Homo sapiens: one gene and its partners. The protein of the gene in region 1 interacts with the protein of each later gene in a biochemical or structural test. Each region holds a gene or a part of one and is shown in the gene's direction. Other genes may lie near its edges.

Region 1 (7,019 bases):
ATTTCAAAAGCAATTGCTCAATTATCAAACATAGCCAGTGTGAGTTCTGAAATAAAGGTGCTGATTGAATGTGCAGCTTTATGGTGGATTTTGCTATTCAGGCAAGCATTTTAATTTTCTGCCTGTTAAATTCTGTTTTCTTTAGTTTTTCATATGTGGTTTATTGTAGCTTAGGAATAGATAACTGAGAGTATATATTACACATACAACATTCTGATATGGCAATATTTAAAACAACTTGTCTGTTTTAGAACTAGAATTAAACATAATCATCTTCAGTATTTTGCAAATAAGCTCACTGCCATCCAGAAACATTGTCAATGCATCTGTTGCTCCTTCTAGAAGACACAGTCTGTCCAGCACAAAGTTACTTAGTCCCCAGATGTCTGGAGAAGAGGAGGATTCTGACTTGGCAGCCAAACTTGGAATGTGCAATAGAGAAATAGTACGAAGAGGGGCTCTCATTCTCTTCTGTGATTATGTCGTAAGTTTGAAATGCCTGTAAACGGGGTTGAGGGAGGTGGGGACCAGGAGAACATCCTGTGTAGATGACACTTGCATGGACCCTCTGGAACCCAGACCGCCCGGTGTCCTGCCAAGCTCCATCGAAACTAAATCTAGAATGAATGTTTACTTCTGCTGTGACATATAATTGGAGACCAGGCCTGGCCTTCCAGTCACTGGATTCTAAGTTGGACTGTGAGAGTTTTTGCAGCTGACTCATTTATCAAATGCCCGGCTATTGGCTCACGCCTACATGATGCTGGGTATGTTTGTTAATTTGAGGGAAGCAATGGAATAATAATAACTAATGATTTAAAAAACAAAGTAAGTGCATTGACTGTAGTGGGGTTCTGATTTTAAATTTTTTTAAAAATTAATACCAGGAGCAGTGGCTTATGCCTAAATTCCAGCAACTCGAGAGGCTGAGGTAGGAAGATCACTTGAGCCCAGGAGTTTGAGACAAGCCTGGGCTATGGTGTGAGACACCCATCTCTAAAAAAATAAAAAATAAAAAATTATCCAAGTGTGGTGGCTCGTGCCTGTAATCACAGCTCTTTGAGAAGCTGAGGGCGGAGGATGGCTTGAGCCTGGGAGTTCGAGACCAGCCTGGCAACACAGAGAAACCCTGCCTCTACCAAAAAAAGAAAGAGAGGAAGAAAGAAAAATTAGCCTGGCGTGGTGGTGCATGCCTGTGGTCCCAGCCACCTGAGAGACTGAGAAGGGAGGATTGCTTGAGCCCAGAAGTTTGAGGCTGCAGTGAGCTGTGACTGTGTCACTGCACTCCGGCCTGGGTGACAAGGCGAGACCCCTGCTCTAAAATAATTTTTTTAAGTTAATTTGTAGAAAAGGTGTTAGATGTTCTTTGTCACATTTTATGATGGATTCCTGTTTAAATGCCGTTCTCTTTAAAGAAAAAAAAATAACTTGTGGGAGTTTTTAACCATAAAACTAGCATCACATATTTACCATGGAGAATTTACAAAAAAACAAATAAACGGAGGAAAATAAAACCTCCTGTAATCATACTACTCAGAGATAACTTGCTGTTAGATTTTGGTCTAGATTTAATACTTTTTCTATATTTATATTAAAAATATTTAAAACATATGCATTTCTTTGTCACAAACATGGTATCTTATAGATACTACTGTCACATAGCAAAACAGTGTTAAATATTCTGAATCAGAAAAGGAAGCCGACTCTCCAACTGAAAGAGGTGTTATCCTAGAGACTTTTTCTGGTGATGACAATTTATTAATAGTCACTTTTTGCTTTACTTTCTCTATTGAAGTAGTTTTTCTATTTTGTTCTACTTTTAAGGATAATATAATTTATAATGCTGTTTTTCACAGAAATATAAGAAAAAAGATACTAATTTTATAAGTTAATAAAGTTTGATCATCCCAAATCCAAAAATCTGAAATCCAAAATGCTCCAAATTCTGAAGCTTTTTGAGTGCTGACATTATGTTCAAAGGAAATGTTCATTGGAAGGTTTCAGATTTTCGGATTTAGGGAGCTCAACAAATAAGTATAATGCACATATTTCAAAACCTGAAAAAAATCCTAAATTCAGAATACTTCTGATCCCAAACATTTCAGATAAGGGTTATTCAACCTGTACTGTCAGATGATCCCAAATGAAAAATATTAATCGTTAACCAAATATCAAGGAATTGATCACATTTTACAGTTTCTGCCTAGGATTATGAATCAAGATGAAAAGGCTCTGCATGTTTAAAAATATATATTTTTATTTTCTTATAAATCTTAAATATCTACACTTAAGATTTATTTGATATGTGGGATCCATTCATATTTTGGATTCAACAGTTCTGTCAAAACTGTGGCAGTGATAGGGGATTCTTTTTTTCCCACTGAACTATCACAAAATTGGAAAAAGAGTAATTGGAGAACCCCACTGGCTTAGCCGGCCCGAAGCCCGGGAGAGGGCAGGCAGTGCTGTGGATGGGGTCATCCCAGCGCAACGCTGCCCCTGCTACCTGCGGATCTCGCTGAGGCCTGCCTTTGTCCTTTGACCCTTGGCCATTTGTTAGTGTCTCTGAGAGCTGGACTGCTGTACCCTACTTCCCCAGGGGGCCTAACTTCACACAGCCTCTGCCGCAGTGCGTGGTTGGAGGTGACGGCCTTGGTAAATCGAGTTTCCTACCTCCTCAATTATTTGTGCTCATACACTGTATATTTTTAGTGAGGTTTATATTTGGGATGTGTTTTCTCCTTCTTACCCTTTCTGGCCTTTCTATGGCATTAATACCTGGTCTCTTCTTGTGTACTTGAAAATGAATCTCTCATCATATTTTTCCTTAGTGTCAGAACCTCCATGACTCCGAGCACTTAACGTGGCTCATTGTAAATCACATTCAAGATCTGATCAGCCTTTCCCACGAGCCTCCAGTACAGGACTTCATCAGTGCCGTTCATCGGAACTCTGCTGCCAGCGGCCTGTTCATCCAGGCAATTCAGTCTCGTTGTGAAAACCTTTCAACTGTACGTCTTCATCCTGCCGACTATTGCCAGTTGCAGTTTTCCCTGCCTTAAAAATGGAGTATTGAAATTTTTAACTTTAATTTCTGATTTGCAAAATAGTCATCTTTTGTTCTTTTCCTTCTTGCTGTTAGCCAACCATGCTGAAGAAAACTCTTCAGTGCTTGGAGGGGATCCATCTCAGCCAGTCGGGAGCTGTGCTCACGCTGTATGTGGACAGGCTTCTGTGCACCCCTTTCCGTGTGCTGGCTCGCATGGTCGACATCCTTGCTTGTCGCCGGGTAGAAATGCTTCTGGCTGCAAATTTACAGGTATTGGGAAGAGAAACCCTGATATTGATTTATATTGAAAATTTAGCAGGCCAAGCAAAACAGGTGGCTGGCTTTTTCCTCCGTAAGTATGGTCTTGACATGGTCACCGATAGAAACATGGAAACATCTGCAAACTTGCCGTTACTCGTGTGTCCGATCTGACTGTTTCTTGTATTTTTTTCTAGTCTGCCCTTACTAGGATGAACTGTACACATCAGTTCATCCTTTTTAAATGAGCATGAGGTTATTTTGGGTTGTTAGGTGTTACAAACACACTAATGTGTTTTTGTCTATTAGAGCAGCATGGCCCAGTTGCCAATGGAAGAACTCAACAGAATCCAGGAATACCTTCAGAGCAGCGGGCTCGCTCAGAGGTAATGCTGGAAACACAGGTCGTCCTTGTGTTAGGACAACCCAGGATATAAAGGATATAGATTTGTACGGGAATAAATTCACAGGACAAGAAATCGATGTGCCTTATAGGTGGGTTTACTGCAGAAGTGCCATAATAGAACCTTCCTACTTTTAAAACAACCAGATCTCACTTTCTAAAGAGTAAAGGATGACCGGCAGGATCACGTCTGTGACGTGAGTGGAGGCAGTTTGCACTCCTGGTGGCTGTTTGAGAGGTAGCATTTAGAATGCCTGTATTCACTGTCCTGTGATGAGTGGGAAAATAGGTTATCAGGTTTATCTTAGCAAAATCAAAGCATGTCATCTAATTGCTAAACAAGAGTTGGCAAATCTGAGAGACATTACTCAATCCTTGGCATGCAGGACTTACATCTGCATCCTGTTGCCATTTTATGTCTTCAAAGCATTTAATCATTTAGTTGTGTTTGCAAAGTCTTTGAGAAGCCTTTGTCAGAAATCCCTACATCTCCTATGTGAGTGTATTTCCATGACTGCAGAATAAGTTAAACTTTTACCTTTTTCCTTCCCTTGCGGGGCGGGGTGGGGGGCAGGGATTGTGTGTGTGAGAGGGAGAGAGAGACAGCAGAGAAGGAGAATATAATTATCATGCTGTGTACTTTGAGCTGAAACTGCAAAAAAGGAAAAACACACAAAAATTATTATGCTTTTCAGTCTTTAGAGTACCTTGTCTATTATGCTTTTCAGTCTTTAGAGTACCTTGTTGATGGTGTTTTTAAATGGGATTGGGCACAATTAGGTGGACAGTTTGGGATGATTTTTCAGTCTGTAGGGCCAAGCTCTTTTGTAATTTGCATTATGAAGTTGTCACTCTCATAGCAGATGGCGGGAGATAAACTATTATTACTTTTTGACCCTAGACTTAGTCTTCAGTCCAGATGAGGGAGATTAAAAGATTATAAATATCTTGTGCCAGATGAGGTGATTTTATTTTGAAATGACCATGAATTCCTATCAGTTGTCTTACTGGGATATTTGATAGTGGAATTTGTGCATTTGAGTCTTAGATGATCTGTTTTACATTTATTAAGAAAGCCTTTATTAGCTTTTATACTGTGTATTGCCTGTTGCAGTGTTTGAGTATAAATGAAATTTCTGGAAAATATTAATGGAGTACAAACTGTGATACTTAAAAGTAAACTAGGGCCTGCATTTGTATCATGACCTGTTTGAGTATTGATGAGAAGATAGCTGTGAAGAAAAAGGTTTAAACAAGTGTATTTTCCTTTAAGAAGCCACTAATAGTGCATCTCCTTAGAGTGTATATTTCTAGAATCCTAGTGTGCAGAGTTTAGACTAAGACTAAAAAAAAAAAAAAACAAATTATACTGTAATTTCATTTTTATTTGTATTTTAGACACCAAAGGCTCTATTCCCTGCTGGACAGGTTTCGTCTCTCCACCATGCAAGACTCACTTAGTCCCTCTCCTCCAGTCTCTTCCCACCCGCTGGACGGGGATGGGCACGTGTCACTGGAAACAGTGAGTCCGGACAAAGTAAGTGTCCAGCGTGTCTGCATGGGAGGCACAGGGCGCTGAGTGCCTCTGTCACCTGTGGCAGATACAGAGAGTGCAGAGGAGGTGCCGTGGACCCAAGGAGTTCTGGCGCTCGGCTCGGCTCAGTGAAGCTGTGGTTAGAGACGTGGGGGGCCATCAAGGTCTGAGGGAGCCAAGCAGTGCTGATGTGGGACCCTTTTGGTAGGAGTGTGGGGTGAGTAGTTAGTGGGTGAATCAAGGAATAGTCGGCCGTGGCCTGCAGGCCCCTGACTGCACAGGCCTTCAAGCACATGTCAATGCCGTTAGCCTCCCTCCATCTCCTCATACCTTCTGGCCACCTGTGAGTTGCACTGCCACTGCCAGCCATTCTGGTATGTTGTCAGCACCTCCACTGCTCATACCTCATGGTTAGGGACCACCTGGAGCCTTGGTAGAGCCTTGGTAGAGCCTTGGTACTCTACTTTCCTGGACAAAGTTCAGCTTATGAATATGAATTTAGATTTCAAAAACCAGCAGCCCAAGTATAAGAAAGCGAAGGTTCAGTCCTGCCTTCTTAGGCTCTATTCGCTAAGCACCTGCCCTGCCCTGGTTGCTGGGGAGAGATGAGTAAAGCAGACAACCCAGGAGAGGATGGCAAAGGGGCCGCTAACCCTTAGTGGTTTAGCTATATTTGGAAGGCCTATTGGAAGTTCACCAGGTGAAGGGGGAGGCTGTGAGGGTGCCCAGGCAGGTAACAGAAGTCCAAAGGGGAAAACCTGTGGTGTGGTGAGCCGTATAGCCACAGCCTGCCGGCCGGCAGCCCTCTCAGCCTAGTGCGGTGTTCCCAAGCACTGGCCTAGGCCTGTAGCTCCAGGGATGTGAAGTCCCCTTGAACGCCGCCCATCATGTTCCCCTTATCCATTTTTTTCTTCCCAGGACTGGTACGTTCATCTTGTCAAATCCCAGTGTTGGACCAGGTCAGATTCTGCACTGCTGGAAGGTGCAGAGCTGGTGAATCGGATTCCTGCTGAAGATATGAATGCCTTCATGATGAACTCGGTACGGGGGGAGCAGTGGAGGCAAGGAATCCTCAGCTTTTCTTGTGACTTCCAAGTGGGATTTGTCTCATCATCATGTGACCCACTTGTTGACAACACATGTTGGGGACTCCAGTCTGGGCAGGGACGGGATGTCGGAGAGACTCCACTCTGAATGGGGCCGGGAAGTGGGGAGGACTCCATTTCAGATGGGGTCGGGACATGGGGGTTATGCTGATCGAGACAGAAAAGCACATTGTTTCAGCCACATTAGAATCCACGGAGGTGTTGTTTTGAAATCCAGCTGGCCCCAAGGCTGGGTGTATGGTTTGGGATGAGAACTATCTGGCCTCCACTGGAGGAACAAACACAGGATGTTATCATCTAAGCTCCATGGCCAAGACAGAATGGAAGTCAAGGTTGCGTATTTGCCGTAGACTTCAACACAGTGTCGTAATGCGTGACGTCAATAACTTGTTTCTAGTGTCTTGGAAGTTGATCTTTAGTCGTAAAAGAGACCCTTGGATGCAGCGAGATTTCCTCTACTCACACCTCTGTTAGATGTAGTGAGGTTCTTCACCCCCCAACCCCAGATGTCAGAGGGCACCCTGCGCAGAGCTAGGAGGCCATGCAAAGCCTTGGTGTCCCTGTCCCTCACCCGTGGGCAGGTCCTGTGAGCAGTGGGGGGGCCACCTCTTGGGTATGGTGCAGCCATGGCCCAAGCAGGGCTTCTTCTCAGACCTACTAGGACGGGAG
Region 2 (7,506 bases), on another chromosome or scaffold:
AGGCTGCAGTGAGCTGAGATCATGCCACTGATCTCCAGCCTGGGCGACAGAGTGAGACTCCCTCTCAAAAAAACAAAAAGAAAAGTTAAAGGGGAACCTCTGAGGGCCTAGGCCCTCAAGTCCCCCATTCTCTGCTGATGTAAGGAGGGACTGTACCTGGGTTCTGGGGTGGGGGTGAGGGCTATGGCGGCCACTGCCTGGTTCTGGAGGGGAAGGCCTGGATCAGAGATGGGGGAGGGCCCCCGAAAGGCCTGCAGGAGACAGCAGGACTGCGGCGGGGGTGAGGAGGTCTCCCCTGTTCCTAGTTCAGGGTGCCCCTCCACCCTGCTCCCCTGCAGAAAGTAACCCCGGTGCCTGTCCCCCCCAGGTCCCTGGCACCGACCCTTAGGGGCTCTTTCTATTACCTACCCTGTTCCAGGTGTTTTTTTTCCCAGGGTCAGGCCAGGGGAGGGGGCAGGAGGAGGGGCCTGAGCCACCTGTGTGCTGCCCAGGGCTGGGCACTGGAGTGAATGTGCCCCAGGTTCAGGGGGTGTGCACAATTAGGTGGTGGGTGGTCTGGCTTTGCAGCCTGGCAAGTCTTCTGCACCCTCCCATCCTCTTTCGGATCCAGGAGGGTCCATGGATGCACACTGGGAGGGAGGACAGGAGGCCAAGGGTCTTTGCTGTGTCTGATTTCTCCCCCTAGATGAGAAGCAGGAGAGGGAGGGGGTGGTTGACAGAGGAAAACCACTTGAGAGGCCTGGATCAGAGACTACCCCCAGTCTCCTGGACAGCCCTAGGCTGTCGAAAGGCAGATATCTGTCAGCCAGGCCAAAATGCTTACTTCCAGAATGACGGGCCCTGAGCCCTGGTTTCTCCATTTGTAAAATGGAGTCTCTGTCCCTACTCCACTTTCTGTGGGGCGACTGAGCCTGTAGGTGAGGAAGCCACGTGGGGAGGTATACGGGCTGACACTGCCCTCTGGTGGCCGTAGCCAGAGTTGCTGGCTGCCAGTGCGCTGACCTAGAGGGTGTGGTCAGCTGGGGGAGCTTTCAGGGTCTCCTAACTTCATCTCTGTCTTCTCCATCCCACTGCCTCTGCCTTCTTCCCCGTCAAACTCTCCAGGGGTTTCCCAGGGCTTCTTCCTCATGGGGCCAGAAACAATTTAATTCAGCAGGAGTGTAATAGGCTTCTTCTGTATGCCCTGTTCTGTGCTTGGTGGTTGGGGCTGCAGAGATGTCCAAGGCACAGAGAGACAGTCCAGGAAGCTGGGCTGTGGGAGGACCACTCGGCAGAGCCTATGGAGCTGTAGCCTCACGGAAGCCTGGGCTGTGCCGATGCCCGAACAGCCACCTCCTTATGTTCTTCAACCTCACTGTCGTAGCAAACCCTGGGGTTGTGTGTCTCCTTCAAGCTTTCTGCTGACAAAGAAACCATAGGAAACATGCAGACTTTGGGCTGGGCACAGTGGCTCACGCCTGTAATCCCAGCACTTTGGGAGACCAAGGGGGAGGCGGATCACGTGAGGTCGGGAGTTCGAGACCAGCCTAACCAACATGGAGAAACCCCGTCTCTACTAAAAAGACAAAAGTAGCCGGATGTGGTGACGCATGTTATTGGGGAGGCTGAGGCAGAGGCAGGAGAATTGCTTGAACACGGGAGGTGGAGGATGTGGTGAGCCGAGATCGTGCCATTGCACTCCAGCCTGGGGCAACAAGAGCGAAACTCCGTCTCAAAAAAAGAAAAAAAAAAGAAAGAAAGAAAGAAAGAAAATAAAACATGCAGACTTTGAACAAGGAGGAGAACGGTTATGTTATGAAAGTTCCTCCATTTCCAGAAGTATTCTGGGAGATAAGCTCTCTTTTCTGCACCTGTTTTCTCCTCCCTGAGGGAACATTTCCATCAGCATGTAAACATATTGTCCTCTCTCCCATCTTCAAAACACACTCCCCAGCACTCATGTCCTCCTTCAGCTCCTGTGCCCTTTTCCAGCTCTCCTTTGTTGCAGATTTCTTCAATACAGTTTTCTATACTGTCTCCCTTCCTTCCTTCCTTCCTTCCTTCCTTCCTTCCTTCCTTCCTTCCTCCCTCCCTCCCTCCCTCCCGCCTTCCTTCCTTCCTTCCGACAGGGTCTTGCTCTGTCACCCAGGCTGGAGTGCAGCCTCGACCTGTGCTCAGGTGATCCTCCCACCTCAGCCCCTGAAGTAGTACAGGTATGCACCACCATGCCCAGCTATGTTTTTTTTTTTGAGACGGAGTTTCGCTCTTGTTGCCCAGGTTGGAGTGCAATGGCGCAATCTCGGCTCACTGCAACCTCCGCCTCCCGGGTTCAAGCGATTCTCCTGAGTACCTGGGATTACAGGCACCCGTCACCATGCTCAACTAATTTTTTGTATTTTTAGTAGAGACGGGGTTTCACTATGTTGGCCAGGCTGGTATCAAAATCCTGACCTCAGGCGATCCACCCGCCTAGGCTTCCCAAAGTGCTGGGATTACAGGTGTGAGTCACTGCGCCCGGCCAATTCTTGTATTTTTTTGTAGCGAAAGGGTTTTGCCATGTTGCCCAGGTTGGCCTCAAATTCCTGGGCTCAAGCAATTCACCCTCCTAAGCCTCCCAAAGTGCTGGGATTATAGGTGTGAGCCACAGCGCCTAGCCTTCTTTCTGTTTTCATTTTGTTACCTCTCGTTATTTCCTCACTCCTCTTTGGTCTCTCTCACCCCCTCTACCAAGACCGCTCTTTTTTTTTTTTTTTTTTTTTTTGAGACAAGTCTTGCTCTGTTGCCCAGGCTGGAGTGCAGTGGTGCAATCTCGGCTCACTGAAACTTCTGCCTCCTGGGTTCAAGCAATTCCCCTGCCTCAGCCTTCCAAGTAGCTGGGCTTACAGGCTTGTTCCACCACACCGAGCTAATTTTTGTATTTTAGTAGAGATGGGGTTTCACTATGTTGGCTGGGTTGGTCTCAAACTCCTGACCTCAGGTGATCCACCTGCCTTGGCTTCCCAGAGTGCTAGGATTACAGGTGTGAGCCACTGTGCCTGGCCCCGCAAGACCGCTCTTGCCGAGGCCATGACCCCAGCTCACCAAGGTTGCCCATGACCCCAGTTTGCCAAGCTGAGTCTCTGTCCTCAGTCTTTGCCTGGCCCAACAGCACCACCCAACACAGGTGGCCACTCTCTACATGAAACATTTTCTTTACTTTCTAGGACCCAACTTTCCTGGTTTTCCTCTACTTCACTGCCCCACTCATCCCAGTCTTCCTTTGATGCCTCCTCTTCTTCTTTCTGCCCTCTGAATCCTAGGGGGTTAGTCCTGGGCGCTCTTACCTGTCTTCTCTCAGTCTCTTGGGGATCTCACCAGTCTCATAGCTTTAAATGGTCATCAAAGAACAATGACTCCTACATTTAAATCTCCAGCCCGGTCTCTCCCCTACATTCAGATTTATACATCTAATTGTCTACCCAACATTTCCAGTAGGATACTTAAAAAAAAAGTATTCTATTTATTTATTTATTTTGAGGGGTAGGCTCGCTCTGTAGCCCCAGCTGGAGTGCATTGGCACAATTTCGGTTCACTGCAACCTCTACCTTCCAGGTTCAAGCAATTCTCCTGCCTCAGCCTCTTGAGTAGCTGGGACTACAGGCACACGCCACCATGCTTGGCTAATTTTTGTATTTTTAGTAGAGACAGGGTTTCACCAGGTGGCCAGGCTTGTCTGGAACTCCTGACCTCAGGTGATTCGCCTGCCCCGGCCTCCCAAAGTGCTGGGATTACAGGCGTGAGCCACTGCGCCCGGCTACAGGGAGACTTTTAAGAGGCGTCTCCCAAGGAGAACAGGGGTTCGCCAGCATGGCAAGAGGAGGGCAAAGCGAACTAGGGTTGGAGGTGAAGAACAGTTAATCCAATCAAATGGAAGACGTCGAGTGGCGCGAGCACTGGGGTGTGAGCGCGAGGGTCAGGGTTGCAGCGCCAGGCAGGGTTGCAGCGCCAGGCAGGGTTGCAGCGCCAGGCAGGGTTGCAGCGCCAGGCAGGGTTGCAGCACGTTGGAAGCGCACTGGAGTTTGGAATGTCTCTCCCAGTCAACCGGGAAAGACGCAGCGCTGCCCTAATGCACTGGCCACCCCAGACCGTATGCACAACGTTGGGTTGGCAGCTTCTACACCAGGGAAGGCACCCGAAACCCCGGCGCGGCAGCTGGGGAGGGGCTGCCCCCAGCCAGGGACCCGCGAGTGCTGGGGCAGCCGCGGCTTTGGGCAGAACCATTCTCCGGAGATGGAGAGGGCAGAAAAAATCTTTCGCTCCCATCCCAACTCGGAGCCATCCGGAACTTGCACTCGCCCTTCTTGCCCTGCTTTTCTTACTGTGCTCTGTTCCGTCACCACTAGCTCCCCTCCCGCGCGGCTCTGAGTCCCGCTTGCCACTAGTTGCTTCTCGGCAGCCCCCACCCCTACGCGTGGTCCGGCCCGGCGGCTGGCGCAGGTTATAAAGGTCCCGCCGCAGCAGCGGACGGCAGACTCGAGATGCGCCCGAAGAGGTTGGGCCGGTGCTGCGCGGGGAGCCGGCTCGGACCCGGGGACCCAGCAGCACTCACCTGTGCACCTTCGCCCTCAGCCAGTCCCGCTCCGGAGCCCTCTGCGCAGCCGCAGGCACGGGGCACTGGACAGAGAGTAGGATCCCGAGCCACCTCTGGATCCCAGTTCCTCTCGGAAGCCCGCACCGGAGCTCGCCCGGCCTCGGAGGCTGGAGCCAAGGCAGGAGCCCGGCGCCCGTCCGCATTCTCGGCCATCCAAGGGGATGTCCGGTCTATGCCCGACAATTCGGACGCGCCGTGGACCCGCTTCGTATTCCAAGGGCCGTTTGGTTCCCGGGCCACTGGCCGGGGGACTGGAAAGGCAGCGGGCATCTGGAAGACGCCAGCCGCCTACGTTGGCCGGCGACCCGGGGTGTCCGGCCCTGAGCGCGCCGCCTTTATTCGGGAGCTGGAGGAAGGTAAATCGGGCCCCCGGGGTCCTGGACCGGGTGGGGACTGGGGCAACTCCAGGGAGGAAGTGGCCCCATCGGGTCCAGGCACCCCGCCCCCTCTAGCACTCAGTGTCACCCGTCCACCACCCCCGCGATGTCACTGCGGTGTCTGTCTGGTCGCCCCTTCTCCATCTCCTCCTCTGCTCTTGTCCCCTGGTTTGTGCCCGTGAGTCAGGTTCTGGGGCCTGCACGCTCGCCCACCCACCTCCACGCGCCTCTTGCTGCGGCAGATCTGCACCCCTTCAGCGCCCCTCTCCTGGGTCTACCGCAGTGCCAGGAGAGGGGCGGGGGGCTGCGGGAGGGCGCTGTCCCGCGCGCTCTGAGTCTGCGCTGGCCGACCGGGCTTGCGTGCGATGGAGGGGTGGGTGGGCGGGCGGAGGGGGAAGTTTTGCCCACTTTTTGGTTGCGGGTATGGGGGCAAAGTCGCGCTCTTTTCCTGCCCCTTGTCTCTCCTATCCTCCTGCGGGTCGGGGGAGATCTCTGGATTGGGCCTAGAGGCTCGAGTGTCTCCTAATCTGGTGAAGTCTTCCTCCTGTCCTCTGCACACGCAACAGGTGCAGGGTGAGTGGCTGCGTCTGTTTGTATGACCCAGGAGACTCCATTGCACTGCCTCCTGGGTAGGGGGTGATGAGCCAGTCTGAGGCTGTACTTCCCCTGGCTGTCTCCATTCTAGGCGCCAGGGACCCAGGTGTCCGGAGAGCCCAGTTTCTGAGCCTGGAGGACTGTGACCCCCTTACCTCAGGCTCCTCCAGGGGTAAAAAAAAAAAAAAAAAAAAAAAAGCCGGGCGCGGTGGCTGACGCCTGTAATCCCAGCCAGCACTTTGGCAGGCCGAGGCGGGCGGATCACTAGGTCAGGAGTTCGAGACCAGCCTGGCCAACATGGTGAAACCCCGTCTCTACTAAAAATACAAAAATAAGCTGGGCGTGGTGGCGGGCGTGTATAACCCCAGCTACTCGGGAGGTTGAGGCAGGAGAATTGCTTGAATCTGGGAGGCAGACGTTGCAGTGAGCTGAGATCTCGCCATCGCACTCCAGCCTGGAGGACAAGAGCAAGGCTTTGTCTAAAAAAAAAAAAAAACCAAAAAAAAAAAAAACCAAAAAAAACCCAAAAACCTAAAAACCCTGTCCACTTGGCCCTGGGAGCAGGGAAGGGAGTGTTGAGTGCCGAGGGGTAAGGGGAGGATGTGGGGGGCAGGAGGGGAGCCCAGTCTTCTCTCCCGATGACCCTTGTTGGAGAACTGACGATAGGACGGGAAACAGCTGTTTGCTGGTAGCATCTGCTCCTTTTTCCTGACCTGGCTGGGCCTTTTCTCCCCACCTGCCGCCTCCTGCAGCACTGTGTCCTAACCTACCTCCGCCAGTCAAAAAGATCACCCAGGAAGACGTCAAAGTGATGTTATATTTGCTGGAGGAGGTGTGTACTGCCTTCCTGATCCAGGCAAGCCCTTATTCTAGTTTTGTCCTGTAGGGGTGGGGGTCTTGTTTATTTCCTGATTGGCAGTCTCTCTGGGGCCCCAGGTTAGGGTCCTTCTTATGGAAGACAGGTCGATGTGGGATGTTCAGGCTGGAAGAGCTCTCAGAGCCAATCTGGTCTGATCTTCTTTTTCCATGAGGGGAAACTGAGCCAGGTTCCACAGTGGGTTAATGGCAGACTCTGGTCTGGTACCCTAGAGAACTAGGGGATGGGGAAGGTTCTCTTAGGGGCCTAGCCTCTCTCTGACCCCTGTGTCCCCCCCAGCTTCTCCCACCTGTCTGGGAGAGCGTTACCTATGGGATGGTCCTGCAGAGAGAGAGGGACCTGAACACTGCAGCTCGCATCGGCCAGTCCCTGGTGAAACAGAACAGTGTTTTGATGGAGGAGAACAGCAAGCTGGAAGCCCTGCTGGGCTCAGCCAAGGAGGAGGTAACCGGGTGGGGAGGAGAGGATAGCGGGCCAATCTACACCTGCCTCATGCCAGGACCCTCTCCTGTCCCTGCCCACTCCCAACCCATGGCTCCTCTCTCTTCCTGCCAGATTTTATACCTCAGACACCAGGTGAACTTGCGGGATGAGCTCCTCCAGCTCTACTCAGATTCTGATGAGGAGGATGAGGATGAAGAAGAGGAGGAGGAAGAAAAGGAGGCAGAAGAGGAACAGGAAGAAGAAGAAGCAGAGGAAGACCTGCAGTGTGCTCATCCCTGTGATGCCCCTAAGCTGTGAGTTCCTGCCTTTGCACCTGCAAGTCCTTTCTCTGAGCCTCAATTTCCTCATTTGTTAAGAGGGACACAGGTGATGTGCTTGCTGGCAGGGTTGCTGGAACTAATTGAGAACACTGCCCTTAGCCCTGGTGGGCTGGGAACTGGGAAGCCCCACTCCCTGCACCCTGACTCCCATTCCTCCCTCCCCTAGGATTTCGCAGGAGGCATTGCTGCACCAGCACCACTGCCCACAGCTGGAAGCCTTGCAGGAGAAGCTGAGGCTGCTGGAGGAGGAGAATCATCAGCTGAGAGAAGAGGTGAGAATGGGGG
Region 3 (7,880 bases), on another chromosome or scaffold:
GTCAAGAGATCAAGACCATCCTGGCCAACATGGTGAAAACCTGTCTCTACTAAAAATACCAAAATTAGCTGGGTGTGGTGGCGTGCGCCTGTAGTCCCAGCTACTTGGGAGGCTGAGGCAGGAGAATCGCTTGAGCCCAGGAGGCGGAGGTTGCAGTGAGCCAAGATCACGCCACTGCACTCCAGCCTGGCAACAGAGCGAGACCCTGTACCCCCAACAAAAAAAAATGGTTGGGCCCGGTGGCTCATGCCTGTAATCCCAGCACTTTGGGAGGCCGAGGTGGGCGGATCACGAGGTCAAGAAATCGAGACCATCCTGGCTAACATGGTGAAACCCCGTCTCTACTAAAAATACAAAAAATTAGCCAGGCGTGGTGATGGGTGCCTGTAGTCCCAGCTACTCAGTAGGCTGAAGCAGGAGAATAGCGTGAACCCGGGAGGCAGAGCTTGCAGTGAGCCGAGATCGCGCCACTGCACTCCAGTGTGGGCCATAGAGCGAGACTCTGTATAGAAAAAAAAAAGATACGAATTTTAAGCAGGGCATGGTGGCTCGTGCTTGTAATCCCAGCACTTTGGGATTGAGCTCAGGAGTTCAACACCAACTGGGCCACATAATGAGATCTCAACAAAACATCAAAAAGTTAACCAGGTAGCCAGGTGCAGTGCCTCACACCTGTAATCGCAGCACTTTGGGAGGCTGAGGCGGGCAGATCAACTCAGGTCAGGAGTTCAAGATCAGCCTGGCTAACATGGTGAAACCCTGTCTCTACTAAAAATACAAAAATTAGCCAGGCATGGTGGCACATGTCTGTAGTCCCAGCTACAAGGGACGCTGAGGCAGAAAGAATTGCTTCAATCTGAAAGGCAGAGGTTGCAGTGAGCCAAAGTCGCGCCACTGCACTCCAGCCTGGGAAACAGGGCAAGACTCCGTCTCAGGAAAAAAAAAAATTGCCGGGCGCAGTGGCTCACACCTGTAATCCCAGCACTTTGGGAGGCCGAGGTGGGCAGAGGATCACCTGAGGTCAGGAGTTTGAGATCAGCCTGGCCAACATGATGAAATCTCATCTCTACTAAGATACAAAAATTAGCCAGGCATAGTGGCGTGCACCTGTAATCCTAGCTACTTGGGAGGCTGAGGCAGGAGAATCACTTGAACCTGGGCGGCAGAGGTTGCAGTGAGCTGAGATCGCACCACTGCACTCCAGGCTTGGAGACAGAGTGAGACTCTCAAAAAAAAAAAAGAAAAGATAGACACTGCGTGTGTGCATGTAAGGGATCTGAATAGCCTTGATATAAGTTGGTTTTTTTGTTTTTGTTTTTTTTTTTCAGTCTAAAGAACACTTTTTCAGGTTTTTACAGAGCAATTGGACAAGATGGATCATGTCATTCATTTGCTCTCAGGGACTATCAATAAACTAGTATACGTCTAGGGCATTCCTCACTGGCCTCATGCTGAATTGTCTTCTTCTGGAGGAGCAAAGGGGAAAGGATTGTAAAAAGGATGATGGCTATTGAATTTCTGAATTTAGGTCTTTTTGTCAGTTTAATTTTATCCTAATTCCCAATTCGGGTGTAGTCTAGGACTATGGAAAAAACACAGGCTTTGGAACTAAACAGAACAGTCATAATTTAACTAAAATATCTGAGCCTCAGTTTTCTCATCTGTAAAAGGGGACAACTATCTCTTAAATTGGTAGGAATAATTAAATTAGATAAATATGTGAAATGTTTAGAATACTCCTCCACGGTGTTAAGTTTCCTCTCCCTACCTCCACCCCTAAGCAAGTTTAGGTATGGACAGTTGCTGAATGGACTAAACAGCTATTAGAATCTTCAGAGCTTGGTTTACAAAGATGAGTAATGCAGTTTCTTCCTTCCAGGAAATTTCTCCCTTTCTGGAAGTTTCTTTTCCCCAGTTTCTTCTCTTGGTGTTTTTGTTTTGTTTTGTTTTCTTTTCTTTTCTTTGAGACCAAATCTTGCTCTGTCGCCCAGGCTGGAGTGCAGTGGCATGATCCCCGGTCACTGCAACCTCCGCCTCTAGGTTCAAGCGATTTTCCTGCTTCAGCCTTCCGAGTAGCTGGGACTATAGGCATGCACCACCACGCCCGACTAATTTTTGTATTTTTAGTAGAGATGGGGTTTCACCATGTTGGTCAGGCTGGTCTCGAACTCCTGACCTCCAGTGATCTGCCCGCCTCTGCCTGCCAAAATGCTGGGATTACAGGCATGAGCCACTGCGCCCAGCCTTCTTGGTGTGTTTTAAACTAGGTTTAGGGCCTAATCACTTGAAAGAGCTACTTAAAAATAGGTTTAGGGTGGAAATCTAGGAATCTGCCTTTTTTGAAAAAAGAACCCAGAGGATTCTGAGAGTGTGTGACATTTCATTTTGAGAAACCTTGATACAGTGAGAGATGAAATTAATTGTCATGTATTCTGATAAATTTTATAATAAAGGTATCTAAGAGGATGATGCCATTTGATCCGTCCTGGGAGTAGGCTTTTTTTTTTTTTTTTCAGGAGCTAGACAGTAAAAATTAAAAAGCATCTATATATTTACTTTTTTTTTTTTCTTTGAGATGGAGTTTCACTGTCGTTGCCCAGGCCCGAGTGCAATGGCACGATCTTGGCTCACTACAACTTCTGCCTCCTGGATTCAAGCGATTCTCCTGCCTCAGCCTCCCAAGTGGCTGGGATTACAGACATGTCCCACCATGCCTGGCTAGTTTTATATTTTTAGTAGAGACGGGGTTTCTCCATGTTGGTCAAGCTGGTCTTGAACTCCTGACCTCAGGTGATCCGCCTGCCTCGGCCTCCCAAAATGCTGGGATTACAGGCATGAGCCACCGCGCCCAGTCTATATATTTACTTATTTTGGAGCAAGGTCTTGCTTTGTTGTCCTGGCTGGAGTGCAGTGGCAGGATTTGAGCTCACTGCAGCCTCAACCTCCTGGGTTCAAGCGATTCTTCCACCCCAGCCTCCCGAGTAGCTGGGACTACTGGCGCACATCACCACGTCTGGCTAATTTTTGTTATTTTTTGTGGAGACGGGGTTTCACCATGTTGCCCAGGCTGGTCTTTAACTCCTGGGCTCAAGCGATCCGCCCGCCTCGGCCTCCCATAGTGCTGGGATTACAGGTCTGAGCCATTGCGCCCGGCGGCAGTTTAATTCCCTCAAGAATTTATAGAAAACTTTTGGTGGAACTATTCTGGGTTGGAATCTAACACTACAACTCATTTGCTTTGTGACCTTGGGTAAGTCACTTCTCAGCCTAAATGTCTTCACTTATAAAATACATAATATAGCTGATACTTAATAAAATCTTCCTTTTAAGGATGACATGGAATACTAACTGCCTCCCTGACTTAGGCACCTAACACGGTAGGCAGTCAGCAATCACTTCACCTTTTTACCTGTTTAAAGCAGCAGAGGCCTCAGTTCTTACCTTCAAAGGGCTTAAAATAGTTTAGGAGAATTCACATTTTAAAACATAAGAACATATAAGCAGGTGACAACATATAAGATACAAATACTGAAGGACATGACCTCATCGTGTCATTGACAAGCTATTAAGGCCGGCTCCACCAAAACACGGATAAAGAGGAGGCCAGAAATCCAGGTGCCTGCAGTAAAGTTTCTTAACCTTCGTGATTGCAAAAAGCTGGAGCTCAGCTATCTTGCTTTATGCATAGGCGGTATTTACTATTAAGGGGGAAAAAATGGAAGTGACTTATCCGCACTTTAGCCTCAAGGCTTGAAAAGTTAACCAGTCGTTTAAGTGGTTAGCGCCTTTGTCTGGGGGAACTTAATAAAATCGCGTTTTCTGGAGTCTCACGGAGACTCTGCATATTGGTCAGCTCAGTATTAACTTATTCGGTGAGTGCTGTCACCAGATCTCGTCCCGCCTGCATTCCCAGGGCTTGCAGCGACATTGAGGCATCTGCCCGCCTGTCCGACCACCCGGGAGGGGGGTAAGATTTGAGAGGTACTTTATAGGGGCAGTTAAATGAAGACGCAAACAAGTCCTAGTGTTGATGCGGAACTGCGCGCCGAATGCCTTGGCTCTGACACCTGTTGAGCTGCAGGACTCCGCTAAAGCGTCCCACCTAATGACTGTAACAACGTCCCCTGAGGAGGGCCAATATGGCGACGGTCTCCTCTTGGCATAGCCCTCTTCCCTCCCTCATGATGGGCAGCTCCAGTAACGCCCATTGGCTAACTAGGAGGCGGTGCCAGGCCTACTTCGTCCCCTCATTGGATTGAATAACTGAGGGAGCCGCCAATTCTCCTCTGCCACTCCAAGTTTCCGCCCTCAGTTAATTCGGCGTTTAATTGGCTTTTAGTTCACGTCAATATGCGTCCTTTCCTGTCTCTTTTCAGTCTAACTCCAATCATAACGTTCCTGGCTGCCCGCCTGATTTCTGATTGGTTTTAATCAGCTTCATCCTCTCCTATTCCTGCCTACTTCTTACCTCTCCGCCCACTAGGATTTTGCCCAAGCATATCCCGGATTCTGGTTGGCCGTTGTTCTGTCATTCCTATCAAAGCTTTGCCTATCCCTACGTCTCAGGGAGCCCGCCTGCCGGTTGACTGGTTTCCTTCCAAGCCAATCATCTCCAGCTCCCGCCCATCTTCACTTCCTGCATCCTTCATTGGCTTTTAACACTGAGAGGGCGGTCTTTTTAGGCGGACACCAGGCACGCAACTTAGTCTCACACGCCTTGGAGAGCAAGCGAGTCTTGCCATTGGATAATTCCACCGTCTTTCTTCTGCAAGTCCCTCCTTTCCCCCTCCCTCATTGGGCGGGGCAGCAGAGAAGGGGCGGGGCCTAGGTTGGGCTTGTGGCGCGCTGCTCCCTCCTCCTTACCCCCCCCTCCCTGTCCGGTCCGGGTTCGCTTGCCTCGTCAGCGTCCGCGTTTTTCCCGGCCCCCCCCAACCCCCCCGGACAGGACCCCCTTGAGCTTGTCCCTCAGCTGCCACCATGAGCGGTAAGGATGAGTCCACTCCAAGCTTAGGGGTGGGAGGCGAGTGAGGGGGCGCGCGCGAGGGCCGACCGGGCGATCCCCGCCGTGAAGCGGGGGCGGGCGGGAGGCGGCGGCGGCGGCGGCCTAGGTCCCGCCCGGGGCGGAGGGAAGGGAGGGAGACGGGGCAGTGGCGGGGCCTCCGAGGAGGAGGGGGATGGGCCGCCCGCCCCGGGGGAGGGGGCAGCGTGGCCTCGCCCGCCCCCTGCCCGCCCCGGCCACGGGGGACGGGCCTTACCCCCCACTACTCGGCCGCCCGCCTGAGGCTCCTCCCGCCGGGGGCTGGAGCCGCGGGGGCGGCCCGAGCAGCGAAGGCCCCGCCCGGGCCAACCGCCTGCCTGGTCCGCCCTCTGGTCGCCGCCTGCTCCAAGGCCCTCCTCCCCCCACTTTCCGTAGATTTCCCTTCCCCCCCGCCCCCCACCGTCCCGCCCTTTCCACGCCCCTCACCCCGAAACCGCCCTTTCCCTCAGGGCCCGCCCTCCGCCCCGAAACCTTCTGACTACTAACCTGTAGATCCCTTTAGTTCCTTAGCAGTATTCACAAATGTTTTTCTACTCACACTTTTTACTTCTTTTTCCCCTCTCGTTACTTTTCACACTTGGATTTTTGTTTGTCTTTTTTTTTTTTTTTTTTTTTGAGACGGAGTTTTCGCTCTTGTTACCCAGACTGGAATGCAATGGTGCGATCTCGGCTCACTGCAACCTCTGCCTCCCGGATTCAGGCGATTCTCCTGCCTCAGCCTCCGGGAGTAGCTGGAATTACAGGCATGCGCCACCACACCCGGCTAATTTTGTATTTTTAGTAGAGACAGGGTTTCTCCATGTTGGTCAGGCTGGTCTCAAAACTCCCGACCCCAGGTGATCTGCCTGCCTCCGCCTCCCAAAGTAATGGGATTACAGGCGTGACCACCGCGCCTGGCCTCTCCATCTCTTTTAAACTTAATTTTAGCAAGCTTTCCATGCACCCACATGTTGTTTTATGCCTTACCTGTCCTTTTCCTTTTTTTCCCTTAGGATACTTTTTCTTATTTAGAAACTCTCACCATGCCTACCGTCCTTCACATTTCCTATCCCCAAAGCACTTTTTGAATGTTTTCTTAGTTTAATTTTGTACAAGGGAGAATTAAGGCCCACTTTTGGCACATTGAACCTAGTTCATGTCCTGCATGCCCTGCAGCTCCCCTCTGCCCTCCAATCCATTTTCTTTATACTGGTGGCTTTCGCCTTCCTGTTAGTCATTGCTATTTCATCATAGCCTCCTTTTATCCTTCCTACTTCATTTCTTTTCTTCCCTCAAGTTTACGTTGTTTGTTTTTTAATTATTTTAGACCAAGATCACTCCATGGATGAAATGACAGCTGTGGTGAAAATTGAAAAAGGAGTTGGTGGCAATAATGGGGGCAATGGTAATGGTGGTGGTGCCTTTTCACAGGCTCGAAGTAGCAGCACAGGCAGTAGCAGCAGCACTGGAGGAGGAGGGCAGGTAAGTGATAATCATAGAGTGGGGAAGGTGTTGAGAAGATGTAAATATTCTTAGATAATTGCCTTACTCTTCACAGAAAGCGTTTTAGGGAGAGACTAAACCATTTTATAGATAAGGAAGTAAGAGAATGGAGATCCCCAAAGACAAAGGAGTTTCAGCAATACAGATAGGTCAGCTTTTTGTTTCTGTTTTTTGCTCCTTGTCTGCACTACGTTGCTGTTTATTTGTTGTATACTGCCCCCTAGGCTGGCAGCTGGGTGTCACTAACTCCTTTCCTCTCCCTTATTTTCGGCCAGGAGTCCCAGCCATCCCCTTTGGCTCTGCTGGCAGCAACTTGCAGCAGAATTGAGTCACCCAATGAGAACAGCAACAACTCCCAGGGCCCGAGTCAGTCAGGGGGAACAGGTGAGCTTGACCTCACAGCCACACAACTTTCACAGGGTGCCAATGGCTGGCAGATCATCTCTTCCTCCTCTGGGGCTACCCCTACCTCAAAGGAACAGAGTGGCAGCAGTACCAATGGCAGCAATGGCAGTGAGTCTTCCAAGAATCGCACAGTCTCTGGTGGGCAGTATGTTGTGGCTGCCGCTCCCAACTTACAGAACCAGCAAGTTCTGACAGGACTACCTGGAGTGATGCCTAATATTCAGTATCAAGTAATCCCACAGTTCCAGACCGTTGATGGGCAACAGCTGCAGTTTGCTGCCACTGGGGCCCAAGTGCAGCAGGATGGTTCTGGTCAAATACAGATCATACCAGGTGCAAACCAACAGATTATCACAAATCGAGGAAGTGGAGGCAACATCATTGCTGCTATGCCAAACCTACTCCAGCAGGCTGTCCCCCTCCAAGGCCTGGCTAATAATGTACTCTCAGGACAGACTCAGTATGTGACCAATGTACCAGTGGCCCTGAATGGGAACATCACCTTGCTACCTGTCAACAGCGTTTCTGCAGCTACCTTGACTCCCAGCTCTCAGGCAGTCACGATCAGCAGCTCTGGGTCCCAGGAGAGTGGCTCACAGCCTGTCACCTCAGGGACTACCATCAGTTCTGCCAGCTTGGTATCATCACAAGCCAGTTCCAGCTCCTTTTTCACCAATGCCAATAGCTACTCAACTACTACTACCACCAGCAACATGGGAATTATGAACTTTACTACCAGTGGATCATCAGGGACCAACTCTCAAGGCCAGACACCCCAGAGGGTCAGTGGGCTACAGGGGTCTGATGCTCTGAACATCCAGCAAAACCAGACATCTGGAGGCTCATTGCAAGCAGGCCAGCAAAAAGAAGGAGAGCAAAACCAGCAGACACAGCAGCAACAAATTCTTATCCAGCCTCAGCTAGTTCAAGGGGGACAGGCCCTCCAGGCCCTCCA

Evidence for each region. Proteins that work in one complex are often made in the same cells at the same time.
Region 2: the proteins of HTT (region 1) and HAP1 form a complex in vitro, tested with the Homo sapiens proteins (4 studies listed by BioGRID).
Region 3: the proteins of HTT (region 1) and SP1 form a complex in vitro, tested with the Homo sapiens proteins (2 studies listed by BioGRID).

What each region holds. Positions count from the first base shown.
Region 1 is NC_000004.12:3,203,665-3,210,683, forward strand, and holds part of HTT (huntingtin), read left to right. Parts: intron 1-342; coding exon 343-484; intron 485-2,831; coding exon 2,832-3,011; intron 3,012-3,142; coding exon 3,143-3,319; intron 3,320-3,616; coding exon 3,617-3,693; intron 3,694-5,108; coding exon 5,109-5,247; intron 5,248-6,162; coding exon 6,163-6,285; intron 6,286-7,019.
Region 2 is NC_000017.11:41,731,625-41,739,130, reverse strand, and holds the start of HAP1 (huntingtin-associated protein 1), read left to right. Parts: upstream 1-4,487; 5' UTR 4,488-4,496; coding exon 4,497-4,965; intron 4,966-6,332; coding exon 6,333-6,412; coding exon of another isoform or gene 6,413-6,436; intron 6,437-6,736; coding exon 6,737-6,901; intron 6,902-7,012; coding exon 7,013-7,194; intron 7,195-7,387; coding exon 7,388-7,493; intron 7,494-7,506. UniProt on the Homo sapiens protein: Originally identified as neuronal protein that specifically associates with HTT/huntingtin and the binding is enhanced by an expanded polyglutamine repeat within HTT possibly affecting HAP1 interaction properties.
Region 3 is NC_000012.12:53,375,315-53,383,194, forward strand, and holds the start of SP1 (transcription factor Sp1), read left to right. Parts: upstream 1-4,861; 5' UTR 4,862-4,977; coding exon 4,978-4,984; intron 4,985-5,329; exon of another isoform or gene 5,330-5,370; intron 5,371-6,344; coding exon 6,345-6,499; intron 6,500-6,795; coding exon 6,796-7,880. UniProt on the Homo sapiens protein: Transcription factor that can activate or repress transcription in response to physiological and pathological stimuli.